Homo sapiens: one gene and its partner. The protein of the gene in region 1 purifies or fractionates together with the protein of each later gene. This does not show direct contact. Each region holds a gene or a part of one and is shown in the gene's direction. Other genes may lie near its edges. The genes, in order: OPN4 and NDFIP1.

Region 1 (7,100 bases):
TCTACACCATCACCTCTCCCATTTAACATGAGGATAGACACACCTCGTGCGTCCACACCTGAGTCACAGGTCTGGGAAGTCTGAGTTTCTAACAAGCTGCAGGAGGGGTGCACATCAGCAGCCAGTCCTCCAGCCACACTTTGAGAAGCAAGGACCAGGGAGATTTTGGATTTCCTGATACAATGTGTCAGGTGCTCTACTAGGCAGTGGGTCTCAAAGGTGAACAAATCCGACCTGTTTGCATTCCAAGGAGGGAGACAGACATGGTCAGATGACAATCACTGCAAATGACACTATCACTATCCATAGATGCTCCGAGGGATGGACAGGAGGAGGTGAACAGCTGGGCCCTTGGCAGTCTGGGGGAGGTGGTATTTGAGTTGAGACCCAGAGCAGGGGACAGGCGAAGGTTTCAGGAGCAGTGTGTGAGCAGAGGCTGGGTGACCAGAGGAGCTGTGTGCCTTCGGTGGTCTGAAAGGAGGCCAGCCTGGTCTCCAGGCACGGAGTTAGGCAGATTCAGTGGCTCCTCCTCTCTCAGCAAGAGAAGACTCACCTGAACTCAGCTCCCCAAGGTATCAGGCCTCCTCCTCCCGCAAGGCCTAATCCAGCTAATCCAGCCTAATCCAGCAAGGTCTCCAGGTGCTGGCAGCTGGAGCTCTCAGACACCTCCCCAATCAGCTGGCAGTCACACCCAGACTGCCTGGCGCCTGAGCTCGGCTGCTTGTCCCACAAACAAGGCTACTCTGAAGCATGCATGGAAAAGGGGTAGGAGCAAGGGCAGGTCCCTGGGGACACTGAGTCCCATGCAGTGACAGCAGCCTTGCCCATGCACGCATAGAGGAAATGGCGTGCCTCTTCTTGCTGAGCCTCGGTGTACGTGCTTCCCCCTAAAGCCCACTTCTTATCCCCACATACCAGGTGATGTAGTACCTCCCTCCACCCGCCTCGCCACGTTTGGGCTCTGTCTCTGTCTTAAGAGCTGTGGAAGCCACCAAAGGGTTAAGTGTGGGATTATGTGGAATTTGTGTTTCCACCTGCCTTTAGGGCTGCAGCAGGAAGCAATGGCTGGAAGGGAGGAACCAGAGCAAAGTGGGGCCACGGAAGGGGAGATGTGGCTGGCTACCTTAGCCCCACTATCAGTGCAGAGGTCCCTGGGACCATCGGCAAACCCGGCACCAAGCACTGAGGTCAGCCTGCCCCCGGGAATGGCACCGGGGGAGGAGGAGATGCCCAGGACAGTCTCCAAGGGAGTGGGCACCAGCCAGAGTTGGGACTGGGAGGACTCTGAGGACCCCTTCCACACTTTTCCCTGCGTTGAGATTCTTGGATGGCACAGGCCCATGAGACCATCAACAATCCCAGGTCTCAAGAGGCCGGGCCCCACCCTGAGCCAAGCTTGCAGAGGAGGAGGAGAAGTGCTGAGGGAAGGTGAGCACAGCCAGGCACCCAGGAAGACAGGAGCCACCTGGTCGGAGGGGAGTGATGGAAGGTCAGGGTTCCCACCCATCAGACCACAGCTTCCAGCCAGGACAGCTTGGGCAGCAGTAGTCATAGGAGACATCTGGAGGCTGAGGCTTCCCACGCGGCCCTCCTGGCTCCATTGGATGGCAGGCTCCGGGCAGACGAGCTGCCAGGTGGGTGTGGGATGCAAAGGTTTGGAGCAAGAGCGCCATGGGGAGCCTCCCCAGTGGGACAGAAGCACAGGAGTGAGGGGGTTGGGCCCTGAGGAGATCTCAGTGTCACCCGCAACGGCTGCAGTGCACGGCCCATGGAGAAAGGACATTGTCAGGTGAGACGTGGGCTTCCAAAGGCCCCAGGCTGGGGGTTCCGAGTCCTCTGATCTTTCCCTGAGGTGCTCCTTTGAGGCCTGTGGCACCCTGGGTATGTGGATTCCCGCCTCATGTGTCCACCTGACAAGCACTTCTCCCCTGGACTCCTGTGCCTGCTCCATCACCTGCACCCTCTCTTAATTAGCAGGTTGGAGAGTGGGGTCCACATTGAATGGGACGTTGTGTTGACTCAGAATTGCTCCCAGCTGTGAGGAATTGTTAAACCCCTACATTAAAACGCAAGCAGCTGGCATTGAGCCTAGGGACAGAAAGAAAAGCCGGCCCCTCAGCCTCACCCTGCCCCCAGGGTGGCCTCTGTGAGCCAAAGCCCTGAAGTGGAAGAGCCTCAGGAGGAAGGCAGTCTGAGCCATGGGCTGGCAGCTGCAGGAAGTACAGCTCCCGCTCCCAGTGAGGCTGCTCCCACTTCTCCTGCTCAAACCTGGGGCTCCAGGAGAACTGTTTGTAAAGACTGGGGGAACTTCTGGAAGAGGAGTGATATCTCTGTCCACTCCAGGGCTCCAACACTCCCAGCACTGTGCCAGGACATGGCCCCCACTTAGGATGACCGCTGCCCGGTCGGGCTCCCCTAAACGCAGCCTCTGTGGCAGGCCTAGCCCGAGCAGCCCTCCCTGGAAGCCGTGTGTTCAGCTTCCCTTCTCTCCAGCTCCTGCTGCCTCCTCTAAGACAGGGCAAGGGGCAGGCCCGGGGTCCCCTCCACTTCTGACATCCAGTCAACTTGGATCAGGCCTGCAGGCCTGGGTGAGTTCCTGGGACTCTCCCAATAAGGTTTTAAAAAATCTTTATACTTTAAAAATTTCTGCCGGGCCCAGTGGCTCACGCCTGTAATCCTGGCACTTTGGGAAGCCGAGGTGGGTGGATCACCTGAGGTCAGGAGTTCGAGACTAGCCTGGCCAACATGGTGAACTCCTGCCTCTGCTAAATATACAAAAATTAGCCAGGTGTGGTGGCGAGTGCCTGTAATCCCAGCTACTCGGGAGGCTGAGGCAGGAGAATTGCTTGGACCTGGGAGGCGGAAGTTGCAGTGAGCTGAGATTGCACCATTGCACTCCAGGCTGGGTGACAGAGCAAGACTGTCTCAAAAAAAATAAAAATAAAAAAATAAAACTTTCTTATCAAAAAACAAGCAAAAGCCGCCTCGTGATCTGATCTCACCCTACTGCTACATCCTCCTTGTGTCTCCATCTGTGAAAGGGTGACCAGCCTTGGTTCTATGCAGGGTGACTGTGAAAATGCCATGGCTCATGGGGGCCAAACATGGTGGTAGGGCCCACTGTGACAAGGGTGAGGCTGGGCTGCACAGGCTCAGCTGCCCACAAACAGCTCTGGGGGCTCTTGGGATGGCTGAGGCTGCTCTTGATGAGCTCAGGGAAGAAACACAACAGAGACTGGTCAAAGGAGAGGACACAGCCTTCTGCCCAATGTCCAAGAGCCCGAGCCCAGGAATCTCCCTTGAAACACACACTCTCACACACACTCTCACACACACACATGCTCTCACTCACTCACACTCACACACACTCACATGCACACACACTCACACATTGACACCACTGTCAGCTCAGAAATCTCCCTTGAAACACACACACTCACACACATACACATTCACACCACCATCATCCCAGAAATCTCCCTTGAAACACATACACACTCACACACACACACACTCACACACATTCCCAACACCATCCCAGAAATCTTCCTTGAAACACACACACTCACGAACCCTCACACACACACACACACACACGCACACATTCATGACACCATCCCAGAAATCTCCCTTGAAACACATACACACTCACATACACATTTACGCCATCATCCCAGAAGTCTCCTTTGAAACACACACTTTCACACACTCACACACACACACTCACACACACTCACATTCACACCACCATCATCCAGAAATCTCCCTTGAAACACACACACTCACACACACATTCATGCCACCATCATTCCAGAAGTCTCCCTTGAAACACACACACACACACACACACACTCACACATACACATTCACGCCACCATCATCAGACCTTCGTAGATAGACACCCAGAGACCTTGGTCTGAGTGAGCTGGCGGCATGGAGCGACTGAGCATGTGCAGCTCCCACATCGCTATATAAAGATGGGGATGAACTCTGTGGCTGTGAGTCACCATAACTGCGACACTCACTCATTTGCGCTTCACCAGACACAGAGCAACCGCCAGCCCCAAGAGCAGCTCCAGGCTGGATCTGCGCCGGACACAGGAGAAAGCAGCGGGTAGGCTAAGCAGGGGTGCTGAGGATGGAGGAAAGTTGGGAGGCTGAGCACAGCTGAAGTCCTGAGCTCCCTGTGCCCTTGACTTCTCTGTGGGCTCGAGCAAGGACCATCCCAACTCAGGATGAACCCTCCTTCGGGGCCAAGAGTCCCGCCCAGCCCAACCCAAGAGCCCAGCTGCATGGCCACCCCAGCACCACCCAGCTGGTGGGACAGCTCCCAGAGCAGCATCTCCAGCCTGGGCCGGCTTCCATCCATCAGTCCCACAGTAAGCCTGGGCGAGCATGTGCATGCACAGAGCCTTCCCTGACCCCTTCCTGGTCCCCTCCTGGCCACACACAGGGGCTTTGACAGGGAGATAGAAAAGGTCTGAACTCTGCTGTGGGGCCTTGAGCCATTACTGGACCTCTCTGAGCCCGCCCCTGATAAACAGGCTGATAGAGGAGGGTGCAGGCAATGTCCTTCCTCATGGAGAGCATTCAAGGAACAGAAATGCCAGCCCTGAGGACAAGGGGCTGGAATGGCCAGACCTGTCCTTGGCTGCACTCATTCCTTTCAGAGGTTGCTCGGATGCCCCATGGAGCCCTCCAGGGAGGAGGGCACACCCTGGGCCTCTGGATCTGCCAAGCCCACAGTGAAGCCTTGGGTGCCTTCTGCCACCTCCATCATCCTAGCCCAGGCCCAGGGCCATATTCCATCAACACCACTGCTACCTGGGGAAGGCCGAGGGCACCCTCAGGACCTGGGGATGCTGGCCCAGGTGCTGGACAGGATGGGAAGGCTCCGGTAGCTATAGGGGCCACTGCGGCAGGACAGAGACCAAGCCACCCTCTCTTCCCCAGAAAGGGGTTAGGGTGGGAGGAGTCTTTAAATCCCTTTGTCCTGACCTGATATGGTCATGACCTCCCTTCAGTGACCCTGGGAGGCCTAAGCTTTCTTTCTAAAGGGAATTCCCTTCATTTTCATGCCAGGCATCAAGGTTAGCTGTACCCAGCTATGCTATTGGGCAATGCAGCTTCTCCTCTAAGGCTCAGTAGGGGACGGGACTCTTGAGAGGGGCTCCACCCGACTCACCACCCCAGCGTCTAGAGGCCTCAAAAACTGTCTTGGGCCCTTGGGCTGGAGTCCATACTGCAGGCAGGGATGCACCCAGGAGTTGGCTCTGTCTTCTCCCTAAGGAAAGATAGGGTGACCAGGGCCATGTCCCTGCTTGCCAGTCACATGTCTGTCTGTCCTACCAGCCTCCAGCAGGTGATCTGAGCCCACTCCTAGAAGGCCCCTGTGCCATGTTCTAGGAGCTTGGGCTGGACTTTAGAAAGGACCTGCACTTCCCTTCTGCTTTTGGCCACTTGTGAGCTGTGTGTGCAACTGGCTTTGCCACTCTGAGCCTCAGTTTTCCCACCTGCCCTGTTGAGAATCCTAACTCTTCCTTCTCAGGACTATTTGAAGGTGACAAGCGATAACATGATTCCCTCGTTTCTCTGTCTCTCCGCAGGCACCTGGGACTTGGGCTGCTGCCTGGGTCCCCCTCCCCACGGTTGATGTTCCAGACCATGCCCACTATACCCTGGGCACAGTGATCTTGCTGGTGGGACTCACGGGGATGCTGGGCAACCTGACGGTCATCTATACCTTCTGCAGGTGCCTGGTTGGTGGTGCTGGGCCCAGGGCACTGAGGGTGGCAGCCATGCAGACAGGGAAGAAAATGCAGGCAGGAATGTTGACTCTAGCTCTGGCCAGGGCACTGTTGAGGCTAGGCAAGGAGGGCAGGGCCATGCCTTCGATGATCTCAGGCCCAGACCTTCCTGAAGGTCACGGAAAGGGCCAAAAATGGTCCAGGGAGACTTGACTGACTGGCACTAATTGAGACCCAGGTGCATCCTCTGTGGAGGGTGTGTGTGCCCAGAGTATGTGGGTCTCTGACCATTCTGCCCTGCTCTCAGCGCACCTCTCCGTCACCTGCCCCAGAGAGCATCCTCCCCCTGCGTTGAAGAGCAGCTCTAGGCCAGGCGTGGTGGCTCCCGCCTGTAATCCCAGCACTTTGGGAGGCCAAGGCGAGCAGATCACCTGAGATCAGGGTTCGAGACCAGCCTGGCCAATGTGGTGAAACCCCCGTCTCTACTAAAAATACAAAAATTAGCCAGGTGTGGTGGTGTGTGCCTATAATCCAAGCTGCTTGGGAGGCTGAGGCAGGAAAATCGCCTAAACCTGGGAGGCGGAGTTTGCAGTGAACCGAGATCATGCCACTGCACTCTAGCCTGGGCAACAGAACAAGACTCCATCTCAAAAAAAAAAAAAAAAAAAAAAGAGCAGCCCTGGGGACCAGCATCCTCAAGTCCCTCAAACACCCCTGACACCCACCCCCAGTGTCCCTCTCCATCTGCCCCCCTGCCTGGCTCAGTGGCTGAGACAGGCAGGTGGAGAAGGGAACCCAGGCTGCAGGGCCACACAGCCCCCTGGCTCTCCCACCTGCCAGCTGAAGGACTGGGCACGTCATTTCTCCTCCTTGAGCTCACTTTTCTTTCCGCAAAACAGAGCTGTGCTTCGTGGAGTCACTGTGATGATGCAGTAAGTTCACGGATGTGCGTTGCCCCACAGATGAGCCACTTACTGAGTGCTGTGCACCGGAGCAAGTCACTTCATGAGTGGGAGCATCTTGTCTGGAAAATGGGGACAATGACGCCTCCCTCAGGGTAGATGCAAAGATGGATGATGACAGGAGCCGAGGCTGGTGAAAGTGCCTGGCCCGGCCGTGGTGCACAGCCATCAGCTCCTCTGCCCTTGGCCATCCCCAAGCATGAGGATTACAGAGACAGTGTGCAGGGCAGGGTCCAGGCAGGACGTGACACTGGAGGGAGAGTGGGAGGGGGACCCGCGGAGGAGGGAAGCGTGAGAAGCCATGGGAAAGCACAGTCAGGGCACGCAGGAGGAGGAACCTAGGGAGAAACCTCTAGGGAGACCTTGGCCTAGAGGGACTCAAGGAAACCAG
Region 2 (7,278 bases), on another chromosome or scaffold:
AAATAGCAGCCCAGTTGACAGAAAGCCTGAACGTCTCAGTTTTCCTGTGTTGTTTGGTGCTTTACTGAAAATTTTGTTGTTATTGTTTGGATTTTCTAAAATTTCTGAAATGTTTTTTGATATTCTAAATTTAAAACTATGTATGTGGGGTTGTGATTTGAAGTAGGCAGTCCTTAGTAATAATAATGTTGTAGGAAGTACTAAGGGAGATTCAAGTGTTGAGCCTGCTGGTGCTTCAGGAGTGTACGTTAAGAGTTGTCAGAAACTTTCTCAGAGGTAAATGAATGCACACCATTGGAGGGCATAATAGAGTTTATTTGCTTTTCTATTTAACTGTGATACCCTGGTTTATTTGAAATCATTCCTGACACACCCAGAGAATTCAGAGCTCTAAATTAAGGGTTTGAGGAACTTACAGCAGAATTTAGAATTCTAATGACTTCACTAATTTTCCAGGGATCCCCAGAGGGAACCTGAAAAGCCATAATATCCTATGGGACTGAGTTCCCTTTGTCCACTGAAAGGGTAAGAACTCTGTCCAGATCCAGATGTAGAATCCCTTCTTTCTCTAGTTCAGAGGACATTTAGTTTAATTTTGTTAGAAGACATACTAGAAAACCGTCATGTGAAGTAAGAAAGCTTTATTTTTTTCCTCCCTATCGATTCTTTATTATGCTTATCACAGTTTTTAAAAAGTAATTATCTGCTAATTCCAACATCAGGTTAGATAAGTCTATTTGTATTGATGGATTTTTCTCTTGACTCTGGGTTACATTTTCCTGTTTTTACACACCTGGCCAGTTATTTCTTTGTTGCAGCATTGTTAATTATCATGTTGTAGAGATTATGAGCTCTGAATTTTGTCAGAAGGTTGTTGAGTTTTTGCCTAGCAGGCAGTCAAATTACTAAAGGATAAATTTGATCTTATTTCTAACTGTCATGTACAGTGATTCTTCTAGGGAGATAGGGATAGGGGAGAGGGAAAATGTAGTTTAAAAATCCTAGGCTAACTCCTGCTGAGGAAAATCACTGGTAAACTAGTGACTACTCTGCTAAATTGCCTCTCTTGACATTGTCAACCTGAAGCCATCAAAAGGATCAGAATACAGAGTTTATGCAAGTAGAAAGCTGGGAATGGCCAATCAGAGAACACAAACTTTAGAAAATGGGGTCAGTGTTCCCAAAAGCTTTATTTTCTTTTATGGACTTCTACTTCTTTGATGGAGATGTCACCAATTAAAAGGTAGCTGAAGAAAGACACAGGTAGGGAATTTTTAAAATAACTTTGCCAGAAAGATACAGATACAGAATTTTTAAAATAACTTTACCAAAACAGAAAAATAATATACTTTCCATATTGTACTAAGATTTGGCATTTTACTAGAAAAGGGCATAAGAATAGTGACTTTTCTAGTCAGGCTACCTGAAATATAGTACAAATAAACCAATCTTGAAGTGATCCCAAAACACCTCCTTCTAATCAGTCAAAGTAGATATTACAAAAGCTAAACATTAAAGCTCATGTACTACTATCATAGGGGCAGCTCTCAGGTTCCTTTTCAGAGTCCATTTAAGCTTAAGGGAGGGAAAAATGTATTAATAAGCTGTTATCTGTTTTCCTACTTCATAACAAAATGCCAGAAGGAACTGCTAAAGGTGTGCACAGTGGCCATCAAGAAGTATGTGACTGGGCCGGGCGCAGTGGCTCACGCCTGTAATCCCAGCACTTTGGGAGGCCGAGGTGGGCAGGTCACCTGAGGTTAGAAGTTTGAGACCAGCCTGGGCAACATGACAAAACCCCGTCTCTACTAAAGATACAAAAATTATCTGGGTGTGGTGGTGTGCACCTGTAATCCCAGCTACTTGGGAGGCTGAGGCAGAAGAATCGCTTGAACCCAGGAGGTGGAGGTTGCAGTGAGCCAAGATCACACCACTGCACTCCAGCCTGGGCGACAGAGCGAGACTCTGTCTCAAAAAAAAAAAAAAAAAAAAAAAAAAAGTATGTGACTGAGGAAGCAGAAGAAACAGATACCTGTTATAAACATCTGTACCTGAAATGGTAAAAAATGTAAAGTGTTTATACTTTTCTTATTTACCAGTTCACTGGAAAATACATTTTTATGGATTACCACCTCCTCTGATGCTGCCAGGTGAATGAGGAGTTAGCTACAGTAATAAGGTGGTAACACAGTTGATTGGTTATATCTAACACTATTTGTGTGGTACCAAAAGCACTTGTACATATGAAGCATAATATATTTTAAAATTATTTATTTTAACTGCATCTGAAATAGAAGGAAAAAAGGAGGTTTTTGAGCCCTAGCATTAATGAGCTAGGGCCTTCATAATTAAAAAAGTGACCTAGTGAGCTGTACCTATTAGGCATCAAATATTTTAATTTTTTTCCATGTGATAACAGACACTTTCATTTCTCCTTTTCTGTAATTTTTCTCCTGTTCCTTAATACTTCTTTTATTTTATTAAAGGAAATTCATCTCAAGGTAAAGGTTTACTTATTGGACTATGTTATAAGATAGCAAGATAATAGGGAAATGGTGTTTCCAGTAGAATTTTTGCTAAACAAAATTTACATGTCTCCAAGAAGAACTGGTTGTCTTCCTCTTGGAATTAAATGATCTGTAGGCTATTGGATTCCTTTTTTTTTTTTTTTTTTTTTACAAAGTGATCTGATCTATAATTTAGTAATACGGTCCAGAGTCCCTAAGATCTGTTTGTTCTTCAGTTTGTGTACTGCCAGCATTTCTGTAACACTGCCACTCAAGCCTCCAAGTCTCAGACAGCAGTGCCCTCTAGCAGTCTTTCATTTGGAGATTGTGTGGTGATTGAGATTACCCACTGGTGACCTCTCTAGGTCCTCTTGAGATATTTTATTTTAATTTAATTTTTACTTCTCTTACTGAACAAGCAAAGGGATTTTTAATGTTTGTTGGGTGTCAGGCTTTGACTTTGAGGGATCTATTAAAGCTGTTTACCTATGCTAAAGCATCATAAACTAAGGAAGTGGCCAGGTAATTGTCCGTACCATATTGTATATTCTTGCAAACTCTGTTTTGACCTACTAGTCACTGTTTCATCAGTTTTCATCTATTAAAAGAAACTGGGCCAGGCATGGTGGCTCACGCCTGTAATCCCAGCACTTTGGGAAGCCAAGGCGGGCAGATCACGAGGTCAGGAGATCAAGACCATCCTGGCTAACACAGTGAAACCCCGTCTCTACTAAAAATACAAAAAATCAGCTGGGTGTGGTGGCGGGCGCCTGTAGTCCCAGCTACTCGGGAGGCTGAGGCAGGAGAACAGCATGAACCCGGGGGGCGGAGCTTGCAGTGAGCCGAAATTGTGCCACTGCACTCCAGCCTGGGTGATAGAGCGGGACTCCGTCTCAAAAAAAAAAAAAAAAAAAATATATAGAAACTGATAAAACAAATTATTTATGTTTATAATGAGTCTGGCCTCATTGCAAAAACATTCATTTAATATTCATCTGCCAATTTTCTTTTTTGCTTCTGCTTGGCTTTTAGAGTTCCTCATATTTTTGTGTCTCTGTCTCTGTGCTTTCCGAGGTCTTTCAATCTCTTATGTCTCTCAATCTAAAGAAAAGATGTCCTTGTATCAGTTTCAGTGGTTTACTTCAAATCACAACACAAATGAATTTATAGTTTGGAAAAATGTTGATAATATTAAAATATGTTCATTTCCTCCAGTGTGTTTGTAGTCTCTCTCCATTTTGGCAGCCTTTTAAATACTTACGCAGTAATCTAATCAGAAAAGATACAGAAGACACCGGGCATAGTGGTGCACGCCTGTTAGTGCCAGTCACTTGCGGGGCTGAGGCAGAAGGTTGGCTTGAGCCCTGGAGGTGTAGGTTGCAGTGAGCCGAGCTCGCGCCACTGCACTCCAGCCTGAGTGACAGACTCTTGTCTCCAAAAAAAAAAAAAAGAAAAGAAAAGAAAGAAAAGACATAGAAGAGTTTCTTGTGGCTTTTATAGTAATTTGGAGGATAGAAAAGTAAGTTATAGGCCGATATTTGAGCCCATCCAACTCTCACTTCTTGCTGAGTACCACAAAATAGTTTCTCAATAAATGTTTATTAAGCAGTAAATGTATCTCTTTAGTGTTTCTTCTTTTATTCTTAATAGTTCTTCTTTTATTGTTAATATAGGGAATTACTTGTAGTTTTTCCCAAGTTATTTTCATGAGAACCAAAACAATATACTAGTACAGAAATGCCTCAAAGTATTAGATGAAAACTGCATTTAGTAAAATGCGTAGGCATTATTTCGAGAGCATTTATTTCAGTCAGATATATTCCTTTCTTAAAATTTAGTTTGAAAGTACATGTATTATTTTAAGAGAAACATGCCCCAAATACAATGACTTTTTAGGAAAACTTGTTTTTTAAAAGTATTTGTGGTACCTGTGAGTTTATCCTTGTTTTCTAATTTTGCCATGCTCGGTTGAGGTATAGCATGACATGGTTGGCATCCTTACTGGAAAGCTTCCTTGTGCAATATCTAGTGGAATTGTTAGGGTAAACAGTATCTTCAGGTATATTAGGAAAATTACTTGTGCACTTGGATTATGCTCTCTGTCCCAAGTTTCAGTCATTGCTGACAGCGTTCAGTGTGGGATGCGCAGTAGCACTGCTTCCATTGTATTCTTTTGTTAAGAGGTTTGGAAAGAGAGACTCCTGACTTCAGGAGTTTTTAGAAAAAGCATTCCAGTTTTTTCTAGTTCTAGAGGCCTTGATAACTTTAAGAACTGAAATTTTAATGTTTATTGAATACCGTGATGTCAGTATACAGTAATCTTAAAACTATGTTAAAATGCACTTGTGTCTCCAAACATCCTGCCTTCTTTTGTGACTACATCCTTCTCTTAGCCAAAATAACAAGCTAACTAGAGTTTCAATATTCAATATCCTTCTCTGGCAGATGTTTTCTGGCAAAGGCCTTCCTGCATTTATGAATTCTCTCTCAAGAAGCAAGAGAACACCTGCAGGAAGTGAATCAAGATGCAGAACACAGAGGAATAATCACCTGCTTTAAAAAAATAAAGTACTGTTGAAAAGATCATTTCTCTCTATTTGTTCCTAGGTGTAAAATTTTAATAGTTAATGCAGAATTCTGTAATCATTGAATCATTAGTGGTTAATGTTTGAAAAAGCTCTTGCAATCAAGTCTGTGATGTATTAATAATGCCTTATATATTGTTTGTAGTCATTTTAAGTAGCATGAGCCATGTCCCTGTAGTCGGTAGGGGGCAGTCTTGCTTTATTCATCCTCCATCTCAAAATGAACTTGGAATTAAATATTGTAAGATATGTATAATGCTGGCCATTTTAAAGGGGTTTTCTCAAAAGTTAAACTTTTGCTATGACTGTGTTTTTGCACATAATCCATATTTGCTGTTCAAGTTAATCTAGAAATTTATTCAATTCTGTATGAACACCTGGAAGCAAAATCATAGTGCAAAAATACATTTAAGGTGTGGTCAAAAATAAGTCTTTAATTGGTAAATAATAAGCATTAATTTTTTATAGCCTGTATTCACAATTCTGCGGTACCTTATTGTACCTAAGGGATTCTAAAGGTGTTGTCACTGTATAAAACAGAAAGCACTAGGATACAAATGAAGCTTAATTACTAAAATGTAATTCTTGACACTCTTTCTATAATTAGCGTTCTTCACCCCCACCCCCACCCCCACCCCCCTTATTTTCCTTTTGTCTCCTGGTGATTAGGCCAAAGTCTGGGAGTAAGGAGAGGATTAGGTACTTAGGAGCAAAGAAAGAAGTAGCTTGGAACTTTTGAGATGATCCCTAACATACTGTACTACTTGCTTTTACAATGTGTTAGCAGAAACCAGTGGGTTATAATGTAGAATGATGTGCTTTCTGCCCAAGTGGTAATTCATCTTGGTTTGCTATGTTAAAACTGTAAATACAACAGAACATTAATAAATATCTCTTGTGTAGCACCTTTTACTGTAGATTAGTGCTTAATTTCTTGGCTTGCATTTGTTGATTGCTAAGGCAATTTTTTCTAATCTTAGGGAATCATTCAGTAGATGCGATTAAAAAACTAATGTTGGGTCAATTTTTTTCTTCATTTTCAGCACAAGAAGTCCTCTTATATCCTACTAAATACATTCCTAAAAATGTATTTGAACATTGGTTCTGTAAAAGATAATGGACTAAAAAAGTAGAGAGGAGTTGTAGAGATCTTAAATCATTCTGGAATTCCTAATTATGCTTCAATTTTTAGACATAATTTTAGATAATTTATTTCCAGTGTTTTCTGCATGTTCTCATTTGTTCTTTTTCTCAGTTGAATGCACCAACTGGTTTGAGTCCTGTGAGCATTCAGTCAGTTGAAATTAAAGATTCCTCATTTCTCCTGATTTCTATTCTTGTCTCAATCTTAAATTTAGAGACCAGTTGTTTTTATGATATCAGCCATTTGATTTTTTTCATTTTCTATTTAAGAAATATGAAGAAAAAATACACCAAGATGGTCAAATTACTACACAAATCAGCACCAGCACAGTCTGATAGCTGCAAATGTCCATTCATCTGCTGTGTATGTATATCCAGAATCAGCATAGGAAGTCGTTCAGGATATCAGTATATAATGCACAGAAGTGTGGGTTGTTTGAAAGCCAAACAGGAAAATTAGGAGCCTCCTGGATTGACATTTCAATGATCCCTCTAACCAGTTTATGGATTATTATGAATAATAGTGTAGTGTGTTCTTTTTCAGAAGTTATATTTGATAATAGAGAAGGGAGTTTTATGGAAGTTTCTTTGAAGATTTTTTTTTTTCCATTTCGAATCAGATTATAGCAACAATGGAGTTTGGAAGTTTGTATGGCCTATAATGTTCTAAGTTCCAGAATGAAAAGATCTGTAACAATCTGAATAGATGTGGACACATATAGCAGAGAGAACTATGTAAATTATCTTGCAGAACAAAATAGAAGGGTCCTAAATCACGTTAACTCAAACATTGTAGACTAGCTTTGTGTTTATTCTTCAGGTCCTTGCGCCTTATTTGGTTTTGTATATTCAACGAACTGAAATATTTGGAATTCCTATTTCTACGTATTTGGTGGTCCATAAGACTTTGTCAAATGTAAACCTACAGTTTGATACGCTTTAAAATACCTAGTTAAGAGGATGATTTCTCTTTAATCGTTTAAATGTTCTGAAAATTAAAATCTTTTGAGGCACATGAAGTGGGCACCATATATCATCTAGAG

The links.
Region 2: the proteins of OPN4 (region 1) and NDFIP1 purify together in Homo sapiens (affinity purification with mass spectrometry; 3 studies listed by BioGRID and IntAct, with this or other methods). This does not show direct contact.

Annotation. Positions count from the first base shown.
Region 1 is NC_000010.11:86,650,549-86,657,648, forward strand, and holds the start of OPN4 (melanopsin), read left to right. Parts: upstream 1-3,998; 5' UTR 3,999-4,235; coding exon 4,236-4,379; intron 4,380-5,606; coding exon 5,607-5,752; intron 5,753-6,646; coding exon of another isoform or gene 6,647-6,679; intron 6,680-7,100. UniProt on the Homo sapiens protein: Photoreceptor that binds cis-retinaldehydes. Contributes to pupillar reflex, photoentrainment and other non-image forming responses to light. May be involved in the optokinetic visual tracking response.
Region 2 is NC_000005.10:142,146,779-142,154,056, forward strand, and holds part of NDFIP1 (NEDD4 family-interacting protein 1), read left to right. Parts: intron 1-4,952; 3' UTR 4,953-7,278. UniProt on the Homo sapiens protein: Activates HECT domain-containing E3 ubiquitin-protein ligases, including NEDD4 and ITCH, and consequently modulates the stability of their targets. As a result, controls many cellular processes.